Linked DNA regions of Homo sapiens: all the other regions are linked to region 1. Evidence: fine-mapped expression QTL. A gene starts in region 1. Each other region holds a variant in brackets. All regions are shown on one strand. Distances are from middle to middle.

What was found. PIP is the estimated chance that this variant, and not a neighbour inherited with it, causes the effect.
Region 2: its variant is the best candidate, but not a certain one, in a credible set for the expression of FHDC1 in esophagus mucosa (GTEx, PIP 0.84).
Region 3: its variant is the best candidate, but not a certain one, in a credible set for the expression of FHDC1 in cerebellum (GTEx, PIP 0.90).
Region 4: its variant is the best candidate, but not a certain one, in a credible set for the expression of FHDC1 in tibial nerve (GTEx, PIP 0.86).

What each region holds. Positions count from the first base shown.
Region 1 is chr4:152,933,703-152,938,853 of GRCh38, forward strand. FHDC1 (FH2 domain containing 1) reads left to right here and starts at 2,621. Exons shown (of 12, transcript NM_001371116.1): 1 at 2,621-2,707. LOC729870 (a long non-coding RNA gene) reads right to left here and starts at 3,135. Exons shown (of 2, transcript NR_136614.1): 1 at 2,947-3,135; 2 at 814-1,748. RefSeq lists silencers at 2,577-2,666, 3,999-4,258.
Region 2 is chr4:152,964,142-152,969,292 of GRCh38, forward strand. It overlaps FHDC1 (FH2 domain containing 1), which reads left to right. Exons shown (of 12, transcript NM_001371116.1): 9 at 764-834; 10 at 3,839-3,956. Among named protein-coding and RNA genes, the nearest start is that of FHDC1, 30 kb to the left of the region's middle. The variant T/C (reference allele first, on the strand shown) is at 2,866.
Region 3 is chr4:153,017,010-153,022,160 of GRCh38, forward strand. No RefSeq gene overlaps it. Among named protein-coding and RNA genes, the nearest start is that of FHDC1, 83 kb to the left of the region's middle. RefSeq lists an enhancer at 4,166-4,961. The variant G/T (reference allele first, on the strand shown) is at 2,655.
Region 4 is chr4:153,071,925-153,077,075 of GRCh38, forward strand. No RefSeq gene overlaps it. Among named protein-coding and RNA genes, the nearest start is that of TRIM2, 130 kb to the right of the region's middle. The variant T/C (reference allele first, on the strand shown) is at 3,187.

The DNA.
Region 1 (5,151 bases):
AGCCTGGCGACAGTGAGACCCCGTCTCAAAAAAAAAAAAAAAAAAAAAAGTCAAAATAAGCATGACATATTCAGGGGCAGTACGTCCCACTGCTTGAGTGAAATGGGACGCATCCAATTGTGGGAGATAAACGTAGGATGCTGCCGGATTGTCAGACTGAAGAATGCTGCCTTCTTCCTGTAGGAGCACATGGGAATCTGCAGAAGGTTTTGAAGAGGTAGGTAGTGTGATGAAATCAGACTTTTAAAAACAGTGACCTGACAGCAGTTTTGGGATGGATTTAGGAAGAAGAGAGAAGCAGAAAGAACACCAAGGTAGTGGATGTAGGTATCCAATTTAACTTCTCTAAGCTAGGAAATCAGAATGCTTATAGGATCATGGTGAGAATTAAGTGTGGTGCCTGATATGTGGCCAACAGCAGATAAATACTTGTTCCCTCTTCCACTACTTGGGGTTACTGCAGTGATGGTGCATGTGAAAAATAAAACAGGTTACTTGGGAAAGAGCAGCAAATTTAGCAAATACTTGAATTTTAAAGAATTTAAGAGAGACAAGCAAAGGAAAAGCTAGGATTTCAAACAGAAAAACCAGGTCTTAGGTAAAGAGGGGGAGGTGGTGGGTGTGGGAAGAGTACTAGTTTTGAGGGAAAGATGAGTTGATTTTTGGATATTTTTATTTGGACTTGAAATTTTACAACGATAATATGGATTCAAGAGTCCCTGACATTGAAGAGAAACCCGGAGATATACCTTGAAGCTCAAATTTCCAAGCCCCTCATTTTCCCTGGGCCCTTCCAAGGATACATGTCTAGTATTATGTTTGTAAGTTTTTATTGCTTTCCTTTAAGAAGTTCCCCCAGGAGTTATACAAGCTTCAGGTCCCACGACATCTGGATGGGTTCAGTTTGAAATCAGAAGGTATTTCTTTGGGATACTGGGAGATCGAGAGTTGGAAAAACCTTGTTACTGTCCTCAAAGGAAGAGAAGGGTCAGCAGAGAAGTCCAGAGAAGCATAGAGAAGGCCTTAGGGTAGGATGCTGCCAAGGAGATCAAAGGGATGAGGGGCTGAGAATGGGTCACCAGACTTGACTTCTCAAAAAGTAACTGTTTTAGAGTGCATGCTCAATACAGTTGGGGGGAGGCCCACTGTCACGGGGTTGAGGAGGGAGGAGTAGGCAAGGGGTGTGGACTCCCCATTTAACAAGGTCGACAGTAAGAGAAAAGAAGATGCCACTCAACTCCTCACTTTCGATCTGCTGTAATTTAACTTGAGCCTGAACAGTCAATATTCCTTTGGGATTCATATTAGCTCCCTGAGCATGACATTGTCTTTCTCTTTATTACATTTTCTTATTCCTTAAGATTTTAAGATTTTCTTAATTGGATCCATTTCTCTTCATGCACCATCAATGGCCAAGAAATGGGCTATTGGCAGGCACAGTTTTGGTTTTGGGGTTGATTGGTTTGTTTACACTAATAGTTTCTCTTTCTCGATCCAAGGCTTGACCAAGGAGGTCAGGAATTCTGTCCTGGGAGTTCAGGGACTGAGGACCAGGATGGAGGAAGCAAAAGGCGTCAGGCATTAGGCTGGAAACGTCTTGGTCGGTTATCTAGGATCAAAGAGTCAAAGGTAGCGATGACTTCATCCCCGTAGAGGGCGCCTCCCTACCCCGACAGTGGATTTTCGGTCAGCCGGTTTGCCCGGGATGTTTTCTTTGACTACTTGCTTCTCACTGGCGCCCCAAGTCACTTTGAAGAAAAAAAAAATGTGATTAAATCGATTCCCCTGTTTCTTTCTGTGAGGAGTGTGCCTTTCCCAGACAGCGTGCGTTCATTCGATGAGGCCTGGCAAAATTTTTGAGGGGTCTTTTTACGCTTTAATACAACCTAAAGGTTTCTGTTACCATCATCATTGAGAATTAAAAACAAAAACAAAATAAAAAACGGTAACAAATTTACAGCTTGGCAGGCCCCAGGGAGGAGCTGACCTTTGCGAAGCTCTAGCGCAGCCAGGTTTCAGCTGTAGGGGTTGGGACAGGTCAGTTCGCCCAAGTGCTGCTAGCTCTCCAGGGAGAAGCAAGTGTTGGGGCAGAGGGTGGTCTGGCGCGTGCGTCGGGGGGCGTGTGCGGGTGTGTGTGTGTGTGTGCGCGCGTGTATATAAGAGTGTGTGCGCGCCCGTGTGCACAAGAGAGGGTGCCTGGGAGGCTGTCGCAAAGGCTCCTTTGTGAAAGGCACTTGCAGGTTCAGAAGCCAGCTTGGCGCCTCCTCTCGCCCGTTCCCCGAGGACACCTGGCTCTTCTGGGCAGCCCAGCTATCTCCGTCTCCTGCCGCCCCTACTTCTCTCGGTGGCCCCCGGCCTAGCCCCGCACCAGCCTTCGGGTGCGGGAAGCAGTGTGCCCCGAGGCGTCTCCCCCGGGGCCCCGCGCAGGTGAAGGTGAGCGCGTGGCGGTGACGGTGGCGCGCGTAGGGTGGAAGGGGAGGCGAGGGAGGGGCGGAGCAGGAAAGGGCGCGCTGCCCTTCCCGGCCGGCCAGGAGCAGCGAGGCCGCAGCTTTGTTACCTGAGGCTGCCGCTGCGCCCCGCCCCGCCCTGCCCCCTCGCGCTCAGGGTTGGCTGGGCCTGCAGTGACCGGGAGGAGGCGGCTACGCCGACACAACGGCGGGAGGCTGCAGCGGTCTGCGCGCCGGGAGCGGGGGCGCGCTGGCCGCGGGTGAGTGCGGGTCGGGCGGCCGAGGCGGGGGCGACCGCGGCGCGGGACACGGGGAGCTGGAGCCCCGCCGCTCGGGAGGGTCAGGGTTGGGGTGTTGTCCGGGACCCGAGGCTGAGGCGCCGAGAAGCGCGGCTGATGGGTGCCGGGTCTCGGCTTCCTCCGAGCCTCACCGGGAAAGCTGGAGAGGAGGTTCCAGTTCCCTCCACATCCACCCCGGTGACTTTGGCGGCCGCCCTTACCCGGCCACGGAGAACAGCGATCGGTCCCTGGAGGCGAGGACGCGCCGGTGTGGACCCGCGTCTGGAGAACGAGCTGCATCGCCAAGGCTGCTGCGGGTCGCACCTGGGCGGTTGACTATTAGTCGTGGCTAAGACTTTCAGATCAACCGCCCCCTAGTTTATCCCGACCCTTGGGAGACAGCGGCGTCCCGCACGGAATGCGCAGCCGCGGCGCCGCGCTCGGTTCCCTAGCCAGCCGGGGGCCACGCCTGGCCCCTGACACAGTGGTGGGGCGGTGGCGGGGACCTAGTGCGGTGGTGCGGACCGAGGACCAGGCGCTTCTCGCCCCGACAAACTTGCTCCGGCCGCGCGAAGTTCGGATTGCAAGTTGCGCCCCGCGCCTGCAGGAGTGTGGGGAGGGGGAGGAAGCGGGTGGGCTGGGGATCAGCCTCCAAACAAGGGGTGTCCCCAGCTCTTGGAGAGCGGGTTCTGACCGGTTTCAAACGCCAGGAGTCTCCCCTCTGTTTTTCTCAGCGGCTCGACCCGGCTCCCTTTTGGCAGAGCCGCAGTGCGGCCGTGAGGCTTTTCCCCCGCGCCTGCGACCTGGATGGGGGACGTGGGAAGATGTCGCGGCGGAGGCTCCGGGTGGGTTGGGAGCGCGCGGCCGCCGCAGACCCGGTGTCTGCGAGCCGGAAGACCCCCCCTTTCGTTTCATTCACACGGACACCTCCCCTAGTTAGCCGTCTCCCACCCAACTTCTGGGCGCAGCGTGCTAAACCCCCGCAGAGGGGCTGGCGCCCTGGGGGGCGTGGCGTGGGGAGCGTGGGCTTTCCAGCGTGGGCCCCTCGGGGAGGGGGGCGGGGCCGAGACCCCCTCCAACTGGAGGGGCCGGGAATGGGCGAGCGGGTGCGGCGGCCGACCCAGCAGCTGCAGCCGCCGGACGGGAGAGCGGTCGGCGCTGCGGAAGGCCGAGGGTCGTGCAACGCCCGCGCTGGGCGCCCGCCCCGCAGTCCCCGCCCCGCAGGCCGCGGCTTCTCTCCCCGCCGCAGAGCTGGCGCGGCGCGTGTGGGCGTCGATCTCAGCGCGCACCGGCGCCCCACCCTCGCGCCGCGACGCCCTTCTGCCCGGCGCTGATAAGGACGCAGCTGGGGCTCCGCGCGGCCCGTGGGCCGCCCACTCGCGTTCAGTTTGCTGACCCCAGCGCGGCTCCCCGGGGATTCGCGGCCCAGCCGGTGGCGGCTGAGCCGGTGGCTTGTTGGTGAGTGGCTCGGGCGGGGACCGGGGTGCCGGGTTGGGGATGTAAGGAGGCTGCGGACAGCTGTCTAACGCAGAGAGCTGGTGAACTACTACGTATCCAAACTTGAAAGAAGTGGTGTCCCAGGACCCCCCAGGCCGAATTTCTTCCGGACTTAATGGTCGGTTTTCAAACTTCCGTGTGGACAGAAACGACCTCCGGGATTCGGCCGTCTGTGACCCCCTTCAACTGACCCACAGTTGTCTTCCTGGAAGGAGCAGCCGGCGCTCCCTTCCCTCTCTCTAGAGCATCCTTTGGCACGCATGTGCTTTTTTTTTTTTTTTTCTTGGTTTTGGGACAGTGAGAGAAACTGAAAATGAACATTCAAATACAGGCGTTTTTCCTCTGCTCTCGGGTGTTGGTCTCGGGCGCCTATGAATATTTACATTGTGCTGCAGATTGAAGGCGCTTACTGGGAACGCGTTGTCCTGGGTTCTTTCACTACTGCCTGGAGCACAGGCAGACGGAACTCACAGAAGAGCTGGACGGTCCGGCTCTGGCCCGACTGCGTAATTGTACCGACTGACATTCTGTGTTTAATAATCAAGAAAGCTTTTGAAAGATAAGTGGTGGTGGAGGAGCCTTTTCCCGAATTAGTGGAGTGGGAGTAAAAATTCCATAGTTTAGAATTGTCCGTACTTTCCCCATCCTTTTCTTCTCTCCCAAATACAATAAAATAGGGCTGTGTGTTTCTCTACCTCTGCTCTCCAAACTCGGCTTGTTCTACCCTGGTTTGTCATCAGAAGCATGTGGGCCAGCCCTTCCTGCCCCCACCTCTTCTGTGGCACATGCCAGGAGTCAAGGAGAAAGGTTTTCTGGCAGGTTTTCCTTGATGTTCCTTTTGATTATTGTTGACCAAAGGAGTGAGTGACCAGCTGAGCACCAAGACCCTCATTCTGAGCACCAGAACCACTGGTGCAGAACCACTCATT
Region 2 (5,151 bases), 30 kb after region 1:
GTAATTGAGAGTGCTGAAGGAGCTGACTCCATAAAGTGCTTATCTCAATGTTTGGCCTATGGTGAGCTCTCCATAAATAACCATACACACTATTATTACTATATTCTTCAGAAGACAAAGGGCCATGTTTAGCTTGGGACTTAATTGAAAGGTTAATTTTCAGGCATTAAAAGAAGAAAATGTGTTCCTTGCCCAGCAAGGGTCGTGGATAGTATTCGGGCAAAGCTCTCCTGAATCCAAGTGTCCAGGCCCTCTGGGTAACTTGGTCTCTGTCCATGTGGCGAAGCCTCCTGGGTCAGTCATTGCTTCCTTCCCACTTGCCTTCCTCTCACCTCCTGAACAGGTGAAGAATCCAAACACTGCCATGGCTCCTGTACCTTCTGATTAAACTCTGTTTGCAAACTGGTTTAACAGCTGAAGGTATCTCGCTCATTTAAAGGCATGCTCACAGGTATGGGTGGTATTTAAGCAGGATATATTGGATTCTTTCAGAAACAAGGGGCCCTGCTGAGCTGCAGCCAAATGCTCATTAATTGTATTTTGTGTCAAGATCAATTGCTCTGGAAAGGTAAATGTATCTTGAGAGTAGGAGAGTTCTAGCAAATCTTACTAAGAGTATCAGAGTTCATGTCTCAGTGAAATGCTTTGAATGTGTCAAGTTTAAAAACAGGAGCAGTGATTTTAAGATTCCTTTAAGCCCTAAGAAAATTATTTCCTTCCAGTTTTATCAACATAGTGAGATAAAATTCTGTTTTTGTTCCAGGAAGCCCAAAAGAAAGATACCATTCTTCTAAACTTTTCAGAAAAATTGCATCATGTTCAGAAGACTGCTAGGTGAGCAAGTGAATTGTGAGAATTCAAGATTCTTTACCTTTTTATGAAAACTGATAAATAGTTAAAACTTTTAGATTCCAGTTTGAAGTCTAAAAGGTTTTGTTTCATTGAACTTTCAGACTGTCCTTCATTTGCTTAACACAGGTGTGTGTGCACCTTTGGAATTTGGGGGTTTTGAAAAATTAATCTTTATTTGTAAACTAAAGAAACTATTTCAGTCTATTCTAATGAATATCATCAGTATAAAAAATATGGATTAATAATTTCAAATCCCTCCACGCCCAAGAGATAGAGCTTAAACAGCACCACCTATTTCCTTGGGAGTTGGTATATATCAATCAAACTTTCATGGCCACATTTCACTGTTTCCTTGTAGAATCTAACATGGTACATTTATTTTCCTTTGCATTAAAAGAGTTTGTAACCGTACCAAGAGCTGTGAAATGATTTTACTTTAAATTAGTCACTCACAGAGAAAGGCACATACAGAGAAAGTATCTGCCAAACATAAGGCTCTAATTACATCACTCTAATTTGCTTCTGATCCTAATGTAGATATGTATCTTAATGTAGCTAGACTCTGTGTGTATATACTATTTTGACTTTTGTATATGTGTTTTAAAATTTATATTACATCCACACATCCCACGGTAAATGTTCAATAACCAGCTGTTGGAGAAAAAAGTCCTGATTTGTAGCATTTGCTGATTTCCGTGTTGTAAATACCGTAACCATGGCTGATGTCAAGCTGCTGACATACATTACTGAATGCAAATTAGGAAGAGACACCCACAGTTGGTTCTCATGAGCAGGTTCAGCCACCGCTCATGTGTCAAGCCAGTTCCTAGCATATACTTACTGAGTGTATCCAACTATGACATCTGTGAACCATATGCATATAAATAAATGAACCATAGCTCACAGCCCTGCCACTGGCCTGTACCTCAAAAGTTACTGATTCTATGAATATCTAGCCACAGATTACATGTCTTTCCCAAAGTGGGATTATCAGTTCAGAGGTGTAAACAGTTTATAATTCATGTTTACAGATCTCTAGATTGTTCTCTAAAAAGAATGGACATCTTATAAGATAGGAACTTTTGACTTACTGAAAGAAATTTGTGTGGGAACATTTTTACTGTAATTAGTATAAAAATATTCCTAAGAGATATATAGATAGAAATTAGCATTATATTTTTGAAATGGCGTTTCTGGTCAGAGCTGGATTGGAGCTAGATATTGTCTTAGAAAAATCCTATTCAGCAAGCTTGTTTATTTGAAATGGAAGGTGAAATACACTTGGGAAATACAAACAGGTCTCAGATATGTGCCGGTGACCAGTGAAGGTGGAAAACTTTATTGCACAAAGAAACATTTGAATTGACAATGGAAGCATGAATGCATCCTAATTTATGAATTTCACATGCATTTTAGGTTTCGCCTACTCAGTTTTCTGGGTAACAAAACCATCATTCACATTCTGCCTATCTTTTGTTTTTTTTGAGATAGAGCCTCGCTGTGTCACCCAGGCTGGAGTTCAGTGGTGCAATCTTGGCTCATTGTAATCTCTGCCTCCTGGGTTCAAGTGATTCTCCTGCATCGGCCTCCCAAGTAGCTGGGACTACAGGCACCCGCCACCATGCCCAGTTAATTTTTTTGTATTTTTAGTAGAGACAGGGTTTCACCATACTGGCCAGGCTGGTCTCGAACTTCTGACCTTAGGTGATCTGCCCGCCCCACCCTCTCAAAGTGCTGGGATTACAGGCCTGAGCTACCATGCCAGGCCCACATTCTGCCTATCTTGATTTGATGTATATAACAAAAGCATTGCAATCAATCCAACTGTTAATTTGCAGAATTAGGGCTGGCTGTGGTGGCTCATGCCTGTGATCCCAGCACTTTGGGAGGCCAAGGCAGGAAGACTGCTTGAGACCAGTAGTTTGAGACCAGTCTGGGCAACATAGTAAGACCCTGTCTCTACAAAAAATTTAAAAATTAGCTGGGTGTGGTGGCGCACACCTGTGATCCCAA[T/C]TACTTGGAAGGCTGTGGTGAGAGGATCACCTGAGCCCAGGAGGTCAGTGCTGCAGTGAGCCATGATCTTGCCACTGCTCTTCAGCTTGGGCAACAGAGTGAGACTGTCTCTTTAAATAATAATAATAATAAAAATCAGCTGGGCCTGGTGGCTCACACCTGTAATCCTAGCACTTTGGGAGGCTGAGGTGGGCAGATCATTTGAGCTCAGGGGTTCTAGACCAGCCTGGCCAACATGGCGAAACCCCGTCTCCACTAAAAATACAAAAATTAAGCTGGGCATGATGGCACATGCCTATAATCCCAACTACTCTGGAGGCTGAGGCATGAGAATTGCTTGAACCCAGGAGGCAGAGGTTGCAGTGAGCCAAGATCAGGCCACTGCAATCCAGCCTGAGTGACAGAGGGAGATTGTGTCTCAAAAAAAAAAAAGTTGCACATTTGTTAGCTATGTTTTAGTTCTCTGTAAAATATAGAAAGCCTGCTCTGGCCACCTGTGGAATCTGCTATTTTCATGGAATCTGCTATTTTCTCACTGTTACCCTTAGTGTTAGAATTATCAACATATATTGCCTTGCTTCTTGTGGGTTAGAGTTTCCTATTTGTGTTTAGTGGCCCATGGAAAGCATATGAATCCCGGAAGCCGCTGGCATTTAGTTTGTAATGCTTATTGCATAAAGGTGTTCAGAGCTAGTTTATGAAAACGTTTGCAGATCCCATGGTTTTGTTTATCTTACCATCAAGAGTACAGTTACAACCTGCTCTCTTTGAACCAGTATATGTCTTTAGAAACGAATCACTTCTTAAAACAGGAGGAAACACAAAAGATCTAAATACAGGGGTAGATAAATATCATCACAGTAGCTCTCCCCTTCTGTTTCCAAGGTTGAACAACAGTTAGTCTTATTTAATATACCTACATGACACATGGCTTCCTTGTTCCAACTGCCCACTCTCCCCTTTCTTCTTTTAGATTATCTCTGGAGAACACGGAGGCAGAACTGCACTTGCTGTTTGTCAGGACAAAATCACTAAAAGAAAACATCCAGCGGGATGGTGAACTTTGTCAGCAGATGGAAGATTTTCTTCAGGTTTGTAGGTGACTCAAGTCAGTCCCTCTAATCTCATCTCCCAGCAGCACCCCGGGGCTGGTTAAATTTGCATGGGTGTATTTGTGGAAGCAGCAGTTCCCATTCATATTTTTTTTCTCCAAGTTAGTCAGAGGAACTTGGTATTTCCATGCCCATTCTTTGCAGAGGATGTTAAATGTGATCTAAGCCTGATATATTTTTTTTTTTTGTCTCTTCGTTTGTTTGACTTGTTTGTTTGTTTGTCTTGAGAGGGAGTCTTGCTCTGTCACCCAGGCTGGAGTATAATGGTGCGATCTCGGCAAACTGCAACCTCCGCCTCCCTAGTTCAAGCAATTCTCCTGCCTCAGCCTCCCGAGTAGCTGGGGGCTACAGGCATGCACCACCACACCTGGCTAATTTTTGTATTTTTTCAGTAGAGACGCGGTTTTGCCATGTTGGCCAGGCTGCTCTCAAACTCCCGACCTCAGGTGATCCGCACTCACTGGGCCTCCCAAAGTGCTGGGATTACAGGTGTGAGCCACCGCGCCCAGCCCAAGCCTGATGTATTTGTTTAGGGACAGTGCTTCTGCGAGGCTCCTGTTGTTCACTGCTCAGTTTGCACGATTGCAGTTTACTGTGGTGAACTGGTATCAGCCATGGAGTTGCACTTGGGCTATACCTGGCAACTCAAGTTTTGTTTCTAAACCAGTTAAACTTTCGGATAACAGAACAAAGTTCCACAGAAATCAAGATGCCTTAGAACTTGGGCTGTCATTTCTTCACTTGTTTATGTTGAAGAAACAAGCTGCGTTTTGGCATGTTTTATAATGAGAGCAGCAGAACACATGAGAGCTGTGCCCGTCAACACCAGGAGTACGCAGGGCCCACAGGGTGTGTCGGGAGCTGCTCCAAATAACATCAACAAAAAACAGCAGAGTGGACATGTTTGTGACAGCTCACTGTGACTCACTAATCGCATAGTCTGACATACTTCTTTTATCTTCCTTATTAAAAAAAAAAAAAAAGGCACCATCTCATGCTTTTAGTCTTCAGCGAAAGGCTATGCTACCTGAAGTGTTGTTAGTGTTTTGAGACCTGTGAGGTGGAATCATGTAGCAGGGCTGCCCTTGGCACTGGGGAGGAACAGTGTGCTCCTGAGGTTGTGCCAGCTGAAGCCTTCGCTTCTTAATTCAGCTCCTTCAAAATATTATGGCCT
Region 3 (5,151 bases), 83 kb after region 1:
AACTTAGTTAAGCCGCTTTGGTTAGTTGTTGTTAATAACAATACATCTCAGTGTCTAATTGGGATAATTTCAAAACTTTATTCCCTATCTTTCTTTATTGACGTTTGGCATGAGTTTTCTTTACCTATGGCTTTCAGTTCAAATGTCACTTCTTCAGCGCTACCTTCTTTTACCAACCACCGTATCTAAAGTTGCCACGCACGTTATTACATGCTCTGTCATGCTGTCCTGGCTGATGTTCTTTATTGTGCCTTTCATACCAGCAAACACCAGCAATTAATCCCTCCCTCCCTCCCTCCCTTCCTCCTTCCTTCCCATCCTCTTCCTTCCTTCCTTCCTTCCTTTTCTCTCCTTCCTTCTTTCCTTCCCTCTCCTTCTTTGTTCTCTGTTTTCCTTGCTGTAGACTGTAAGTTCTATGAAGGCAGGGACCCTGCCTGGTTTGCACCATGCCCGTTCCTGGGAGAGAGCTTTGCACGTGGCAGGTGCTGGATAAGTATGTGTGAATGGATGAGCCTGTGTGAGAACCAAAATGGGACACTGGGAGTAGGTGGTGCTGTTGAAAAATTTCCTTAGGGGAAATCCAAGAAGCCCGAGTGGAAAACCTGTCAGTGCAAGTGGTTAAGAGTCCAGGGTACTAAGGAGGAGGATGATGTAGACTTTCCTTAATCCTTCTCCTCCAGAGCGTAGAGCACAGCCACTCAGGGCCCCATTGCCTAAGCACAACATGAATTCACACTCATTGCTTGCACCCACTATTGCTCTTGGGGTCTGGAGTGGAGGCATCTTTTGGACTCTGGTAGCACAGATGACTAGTTAACTACCAATACCTTAGTGACAGAGTCCCCCACTGGACGATTATATCTCTTTGCCTTCCTTGCCTCTTGTTGGCCTCTACCAGCTGGCTGTGCTGTATGATCTCGAATTCCTAAAGCTTCCATGTCAGGATCTAGCTTGGTCCCATGGAGAAATAACCACCCTGAGACTAGGGAAGGAGGGTTGTTAACTAACTGAGCCCCCAACATCCCTAGTGGCACAGGCCTTTTTCTCCCTGGAAGATATTTGACAGAAATGGCTCTGGTTTCTCCGTCTCATTTCTGGGTTAAATCCCACTAGTCTCAGTTGCCCAGCCCAGGTCTTACTCTGTATTAGTCCATTTTCACACTGCTATAAAGAACTACCTGAGACTGAGTCATTTATAAAGGAAAGAGGTTTAGTTGACTCACAGTTCCACATGGCTGGAGAGGTCTCAGGAAATTTACAATCATGGCGGAAGCCAAAAGGGAAGCAAGACACATCTTACATGGCAGTAGGAGGTAGGGGGGAGGTACTACACTTTTAAAACCATCAGATCTCATGAGAACTTACTATCAGGAGAACACCACGGGGGAAACCGCCCCCATGATCCAATCACCTCCCACCAGGTCCTCCCTTGACACGTGAAGATTACAATTCTAGGTGAGATTTGGGTGGGGATGCAGAGCCAAACAGGATCACACTCCTTCATGGAGCCTTGCCCAGTTTCTTTGGTTCACCTGGGTTTTTTCTGTTCTGATCGCCATGCCTCTCATTTCGATGTCATTTGTTCATTTACTCTTTTATTCATTTAACTAAAAGGGCCTCCTCTGTGCGGGGCACTATGCCAGTCACTGGGGGTTAGAATGAGAGCAAACATAGACATGGTCCCTATTGATCACATATCAATTATCTAGCAGATGTTTCCAGTTTGCAGTGCTTTGGCAGTCACCAAGTAGAATAAATGCAAGGCCACAGTTAGGTGACATACACAAAGCAGACAACACTAAACAGCTTTCAGCCACCATACTGCAAGCACTCATCTCATGCCAGCTTGGTGACAGCTGCAAAAAAAGCTTTCCCATGGGCCACAACCTGTTTCATGCTTTTAAGGCGGCAGACTGTGCATATCTGTGAGCTGCTGTTTTGTGGGTCTCCTGGGGCTGGAGCTGAGAGCAGGACTGTCAGGAGGTTGCTGTGGGCAGTGGACTCTGAAGGGCAGCCCTGCTTTCTGAAAGATGGCTGCTGAGCACAAGTGTGGGAGAAGGAGAACTGTCACCCTACAGAAAAGTGAGACTTAAGGTCTGGGGGACTAAAAGGCAGAGGGGACGGAGGTTTTGATTCTTTGAGTGAAAGCCCATGAGCCCACAGCAGGGTGGCACAAAAGCCAACTAAAGAGTCACAGAAGAGCCTTAAATGGCACCATCCAAGGGGCAGAGAGGCTGTCCTTCTTCTTCTCCTGCGTGTGGGTGGGGGTGGGGCTGGGTCACACAGAGCCTGCCTTTCCCTGCTTGGCAAGCTCAAACATGCTCTTAACACAACTGGTCAACCAGTGCGCTCTGTTCCATGACCTCAAATACAAATGCAATCAACTCTCCATTTTAACCTTGCTTTTTAATCTAGAATCCAAACGACCCCAAAGCCTGTTGTTCCTATCATCGACTGGTGTGACTAAGAGGCAGCTTCTATGTTATATCACAGGGCCAGCAGGATGTAGCCAGTCCCCCACATGGCTCACAAGTGCAGCACTGTATCCATGGGTAATTTACACGCAGGGCGATGTCCCTGGGCCCCTGCTGGATTCTGAGGTGTCGACAAACCAGCACGGGTGGGCCGTGTTCTGGAGCACTTTAACCTTGGGT[G/T]TATTTCACTGGAACTTGATTCTCTGAAAATGGCACGGCGTCTCTGGCACCCAGTTAATTAGAATGTTGAAGCAACCAGACCAGCCCATGGTTGACCTTGCTGGGCCGGCTGTGTTTACTGAATGCATGTGGAGCACCCACTTTGTTATGATCTGTCTGTTTTTAATACCATCTGGCTTCTCCCTGCCACCCAGAACACTTTGGGCTTCTCCCACCCCTGTGCTGCAGGCTGCTCAGGGAACGTAAATTCATTTTTGAGATTAAGCAAAACATAATTAAGAGGGCAAATCTCTTAGAGGAAATAAAACCATAAACAGTGATGCAGACCAGCCAAAATTACCTGCTGCTTTAACCACCTGTTTATCCGCCCTTTCACTGAGCGTGGTGAGTATTTTGGAGTTGACCTTCATGGCTCTGTGGCTCCGGAAGCTTCGACACGTGGTTTTGTTGGCAGATCTTCATTCCTGGTGTTTCACCAGGCTGTGAACTCTCAATTGCTGGGGACCAGAGCTTCAGTGGACCTCACTCCAGCACATGCTCCACCCACACGCATGGGCCTGCCTTCACCGGGATGCGTAAGGCTTCCAAGGGAAATCACCAAGGTTCCTTGGGATCAGCAATGTGATGCTGCGAGTCTGTGGGAGTAAAGATGAAGCAGCAGCGCCGGCTGGCAGGGTGTCTGCTGAGATTCTGTGTCCTCCAGGTGGCCCCAGGAAGGGATGGAAGCTGTCCTCACCCAGAGAGCCTAGTGGAACAGCCACTGGTGACCTCCCAACCCTGTCTCCAGAATGATCCCCCAGCTTCTACCGCTTCACTACTGCCCCACTCCCCTCCTTCCCCACTCTCCTCCTGCACCTGTTATGGTTTGAATTGTGTGCTCCATCCCCAAACTAGAGATATGTTGAAATAGAGAAGCTCTTACCCCAATTCCTCAGAATGTGACCTCATTTGGAAAGAGGGTTGTTGCCGATGTGGTCAGTTAGATGGAGTCATACTGGAGTAGGGGGAGCCCCTAATCCTAGATGACTGGTGTCCTTATATGTACACAGCCACGTGAACACAGACACACAGGGAGAACATGGCGGGAGGACGAAGGCAAAGACTGGAGTGACGAGGCTGCAAGCCTAGAAACCCCAAAGACTGCCAGCAAGCCCGCAGAAGCTAGGAAGAGTCAAGGAAGGACTCCCCTGTGGCTTTCAGAGGCGGCATGGCCCTGCCAGCACCTTGACCTAAGTCTCGAAGCCTCTGGAACTGTGGGAAAATATATTTCCTCTGTTTTAATCCATCCGATTTGCAGTACTGTGGCACAGCAGCTAATAGGCAGGAAACCAACACACCCTCCTAGCTCATTAGGTTGCCCCAGAGGTTAGTTTATTGTGAAGCTTGTGAAGTGTAAGATTCGGATCCTTCCTTGTGCAGGCTCCTTCCAAAGCCCTGTACTTCATTTTGTGTTTGCAATTTTGTATGCTTTCTCTTAAAAAATGCTCCCCCCAACTGGGTAAGATTTGGACTCCCCAAAACCCGGATCTGGATCCACAGTCCTTGCCCTGCTTGAGCTCCAGCCCAGGCCCCTCTGCCAGGGCACAGCAGAGCCAGAGCAGGGCTCTGGGAAGCCCCCTCAGGGCAGACCCACACGTTCCGCTTGGGTTCTGCGGCATCCCTGCTCTGTGGACAGTATCACCATCAGGAGGCCATGGGAAGAGAGCTCAGTGTTAGGTTGCTTTATCCATTTGTCAGGGAAAAGACTGAATTAGAAACCTTCCGGGGTCTCTTCCAGCCAAGTGCCTTGGGGATAACTGCATAGACTCACATTCTTTCAGAGTCCCAGTGAGAAGCTAAAGTTCCAGCCGGCAGCCTCTGTTTGAATAGAGCCAAAGAGCCTGATGTGATGAGAGCCAGAGCCCCGGGGAGGCCTGTCGTGGCTGCAGCGTGGCCACCCTTAGCCCAAGCTGCTCTGCTTCATGGCTTCCCCACTTCCAACCAGCACTCATCTTCATTCCCTACATTCAGATGGGCAGAGATGGCAGAAATGCCTGCTCACCACCGCCATGTGCACACACGCACACACGGACACGTCGCTTGTCCCAGTGGGGCTTCGTTCTCATCCTGCTTTCCCACCTCCAGGCCACTCCTAATTCAAACCAGTATCTCAAACACTTATGTGGCATTTAGTCTGTGCTAGGTGCTGTGGCGAACGGCACAAGGGTCCTGGGAACAGTGCATTCTCTAAAGAGGGAGACAGATGTGAAAGTAAATAGCCACACCGCATATAAATAACATGAAAGGATGTGGTGAAGGCCCAGTGTGTAAGCAACATGCTATCTGACTTCTTGAGGAGCAATGAATTCGGATTTGGGTGGGGAGTGGGGAGGCTTTATGAAGGAGGCACTGCTAAAAATCATGTGATAGATTGACAGGCCTGACCCATCAGGGACGAGCAAAGTTCCTGGAGGGCCCTGATAGGAATCCTCAGCAGCTGGGCTTGGGAAGGTCCAGG
Region 4 (5,151 bases), 140 kb after region 1:
TTATTGGATAGAGCAATATTTAATTAATTTTCAATGCTTTATAATATTTCATTAAGCAAATTTATTATCATTTACTTATATAACAAATTATAAATATTGAAGGACATTTGTGTTGTTTCTTGTTTTTATTATGAATAGTACTCCTATAAAGTTTTTAACATGTCTTTTTATGTACACATGCATGCATTTCTGTTGACTATATACCTAGGAGTAGAATGTCTGAGTCACAGGTATGCATATGTTCAGCTTTAGCAGATGCTGCCAAACAGTTTTCCAAAGTTGTACCAGTTTGCATACCCACCAACAGAGTATGAGACTTCTAGTTGTTCCACATCCTCACCAATACTTAATTGTTTACTATTGGCCATTCTGGCAAGTTAAAAAATGGTATTTAATTGTGGTTGACATTTGCATTTTCTTGATGAATAATTAGACTGACTACCTTTTCAGATGCATATTGGCCATCTGGATAATCTCTTGTGATGTACATGCTAAGTCTCTTGCCCATTTTTTAAATACTTTCCTTTCCTGTTTTTTTTTTTTTCTCTCAGTAACTTAAAGGACTTCTTTATTCACTCTGAATGAGTCCTTTGTTAGAAATATATATTGCATATCTCTTCTTTCAGTTTGTGGCTTGCTTCCCTTTTCACTATCTTAAAATGGTATCTATTGATGAACAGAAATTCTTTATTTTAAATAGTCTAATTTATAAACGTTTTCTCTTCTGGTTGGTGATTTTCATGTCCTGGTAAGAAATCTTTGCATACCTTACTATCATAAAGATATCTCCTGTGTTATCTTTTAAATTGTAATTGTTTCACTTTTCACATTTTAGATCTACTATCCAGCTGGATTTTTTTTTAATGATGTGAGATAGATTAAGATGAGGTTTTTTCCATTCTCATATCTATTGGCCCAGAACCACTCATTAAGCAGACTGTCCTTTCCCTTCTGTACAATACCATCTTTGTTATAAATCAAGTGTTGGTCTAGTTTTTGTACTCTATTCTGTTCCATTGATCTACTTGTCTCTCTTTCTGCCAATACCACAGTGACTGAATTATCCAGCATTCTTATTACTTGTGTTATCTAGTGTAAGTGTTTCAGTGATGTTCTTCAAGATTGTCCTAAACACTCTTGGTCCTTTGTATTCCACATGCAAACAAAACAAAATAAGCCTGCCAAGATATCTTTGAGGTTTACATTGAATCTATGGATGAATTTGAAGGGAAATTGACATTTTTACACTATGTGTTCCAATCCACAAGTATTATTTAGATTTATTTAGATTTTCTTAGATTTATTTAGATTTTCTTTAATGTCAGAAAATGTTTATAGTTTATGTATAGAGATCTTTTACTTATTTGTTGAATTTATTCCTAAATGTTTGATTCTATTAATGCTATTGTAAATGGCATCAAGTTTTAAAATTAGCTTTCTAATTATTTGTTGTGGATATTTTGAAATATAATTGATTTTTATGTATTGACTTTATAGCCAGCAAATTTATTGAATTTATTAATTCTAATAGCTCATCTGTAGATTTTATTGGACTTCTGAAAATAAAAATGGTGGTTTTATTTCTTCTTTCCCAATCCTTTTACATTTTTTTTCTTGCCTTCTTGCACTGGCTAAGGCCTCTGAAATGATGCTGAATAAAAGTGGTAATGGGGGCATCTCTGTGTCATTACCAATCTCAGGGAAAGGATTTTAATATTGGATGATTAAATATGATGTTTGCTATAGATTTTCTTGTAGATATCTTTTATCAGATTAAGCAAGTTCTCTTCTATTTTGTCATCAATGTATATTGAATTTAATCAAATGCTTTTTCTGCATCTATTATGTATTAGTCTGTTCTCACACTGCTAATAAAGACATACTGAGACTGGGTAATTTATAAAGGAAAGAGGTTTAATTGACTCACAGTTCCACATGGCTGGGAAGGCCTCAAAATCATGGTAGAAGATGAAGGAAGAGCAAAGGGACTTCTACCATGGTGGCAGGCAAGAGGGAATGAGAGCCAAGATAAAATTATCAGATTTTGTGAGACTTATTCACTACCATGAGAACAGTATTAGGGAAACCACCTTTATGATTCAGTTATCTCCCACTGGGTCCCTCCCACAACACATGGGAATTATGGGAGCTACAGTTCAAGATGAGATTTGGGTGGGGATACAGCCAAACCATAGCATATTAAGATTATTATATGATAGTTCTCTCTTTCAATGTAGATATTCTCCAAGTCCCTGTTCTGAGCCTTCTCCTTTTCTTCTTTCCCTACTCTTCTCCCATTAGTTACCACATTCAATTCACAACTTATATTATTACCTTAAGGAAGGTAACACCACAAAATTTATTTGCAATTGAATTTTCACTCTTCACTCATAATTCCAGCTACCCCCTGGATACCTATTCCTGGATGTCCTGCCAACATCTCAAACTCAAAATGTCCAAAAGTGAGTTACTTTCTCCCCAAATCTGCTACTTTTCCTTACTATTCTTTCTCTGTTAAAGATATCAAGAAGCTCCTAGTAACTTGGGCCTAAAAAGTCATAGTCATCATTGACTCCTTTTCTTGTTCCACCATCCAACAAATCAGACATTATATTCTGTTAATCTCTAGATATTTGTTACATGTTTACATGTTCCCCTTCTTTTCGTCATTATCACTCTTAAGTTATTGCTTTTACAGTAACAAGGTGCTTTAGTTCCTGTTTCTCTATCTTCTAATCTATTTGGCTTGCTGCCACCAGACTAATGTTGTTTAATATCTGTTGAATGAATAAAGCATAGTTTTAATCATGTTACCTGCTGGTTACCTCCCTCTTGTTGACTACATAAAATTCAGACTTCTTAGCTTAGTTCCAAGCCCTTTGAATCTGGTTCTAGACTCTATCTGTACTTCTTCAGCTTTAAACCTTTCATACACCCTATATTTTGGTTGAATACAAATCATTTTCCAAGTTGTGTTCTGCCATACAATAGAGCCCTTCAGGAGGCTAATACTATTTCTTGAATAAAAATGTTCTGTGGTAATTAAATTTAACCAAAGTCAGACAGCTTTCTTGCACAATCTCTCAAAGCCTTTACTATTCTAATGTACATTGTGAGCCTCCAATTGAGGGGAAAAGTATGTGGTATTTCTCAATGCTATTTGACCATGAATCCTGTTTAAGGGAC[T/C]ATCACTTATCTCACAAGACACTAATGTTCCAAGAAATACATTTTCAAACAGGCTGATACAGATGCCTCTTTATTCCCCAAACATACTCTCTTTCTCACATCATCCTCTTAGATTAGAACAGTGGTTCTTAACCAAGGTTGCCCTCCAAGGGAAATTCAGCAATGTCTGGAGACATTTTTGGTTGTCACAGCTGGGAGCTGTATCTAGCAAGTAGGGGCCAGAGATGCTGCTAAACATTCTACAATGCACAGGACAGCCCCCGCCCCCAGCAAAGAATTATCCACCCAAAATATCAATAGTGCCAAGGTGGGGAAACTCTGAGCTAGACAATCCTCTTCTCACTTCCTCTCCCTGCCAGTCAAAGCTGTATCCATTTCTTAAAGTCCAGATCAAATATTTTCTTTTCAGTTAATGCTTGATTTTACCACTTAGATTTTTCTCCTTCTAATCTTCTACAGGACGGTATATGTTGCCTTTATTGCATTTATCTAATTCTTTCCTATATTATACATATTAATGTATATTTATAACATCTCATACTTGACTGTAATGTTCTGAGTAGCGGGACAATGTTACAGTCGTTTGTTCTCTCTTCAAAGAGCTGACAATGGTAGTAACAGTAAGTTCTTGCTTAAAGAATAAAATGAAGCTTTATTTAACTCTTCTTTTTTAGTCTCCTCCCAAATGTAATTGCTCACCCGGTCTTGTCAGTTTTTCCTTCATGTTTTCCTCACATCTTTCTTAATCTTTCCACATCTCGTGCAGGCGTCCTGGCTTCATGCCCCACTATAGCAACAGGGAGGGAAAATGGTGTGTTGGAGAGAGCCTCATCTTGCATCTGATAAGCCTCCATTTGATGCCCCCCACCCCCTTGCCTTCCCTGGGAACTGCAGTTCTTCAAGCCATGGTGAAAGTGATTGTATCTGCCTTGCAGGGTTCTGTAAGGATTAGAGTGAACACAATGGGTGTTCAATAATGGGCTCTAATAGTCAATAGCCTGAAGGGCTCTTCCTACCTCAGCTCTAAAACTTTCTCAGATCCTCCATCACCCACACAGGCCAAGCTGCTGGAATTCAGGGCTCTAGGCCACTGTGACCAACTTACTCAAAGAAATTTACCCCTAATTCTCCTTTCCAAACCCTCAAACTCTTGATGAGCCGGTCCTTTCAGTATAGTATTCAAAGAGGCCTGAGCATTCTCATCTCCATATTCTGATTCATGGGTTCTTCCCTCTTGGAAACTCCCGTCTTCTGTCACAAATCCTGCTCAAATCCCATCCAGCCTTACCTCTTGGTTCAGTAAAGTCTCCTCAGACCACTCAGCCTACAGGGATCCTTTCCTTTTCTGGACATTTGGAGTCCTTATAGTCTGTTTCACTAACAGGCAATCAATTTCTATTACTTGATGATGTTTCTCACCTGGAGAACTATGCAAATACACCTTCTAGGACTGTCTAAACTTTTGTGCTTTCTCACTTTAGATGGTAAGCTGCTTGAGGACAATGACCATGTCTAATTCTTCTTCACCAAAGTTACCTTGCATATGCTAGAGGCTCCAGAAATATTCAGTCCAAATATTCTGTCTTCTTTCACCTTCGAGTGTGTCTTTAAATGCCCTTTTCATTTTAGGCCTCATGCGCACCTTTGGAGGGTTCCTCAGGCACAGGCAGGAATGAAGGTGATAGCAAGGCCCTGGGTTTCACTTGGGTTAGATGGGAGTGCGGAAAGAGAGGTGCCACACACCAGGATCTGAGAGAATTCTTATAAGCAGAGAATAATGGCAATCAGACACTAACATTTTAATTAACAATTTTAATGGCTTATCCAAAATAATCCTTCTGATTTGGAAGGATTAAATTCCACTTGACAGAACTACCAATCCATGTGGAAAGAAGTCTCACGTGCTGCTCTTGTAGTTACAGCAGGGCCTGGTGGGGCAGAAGGAGTTGTCCAGCAAAGTGCACA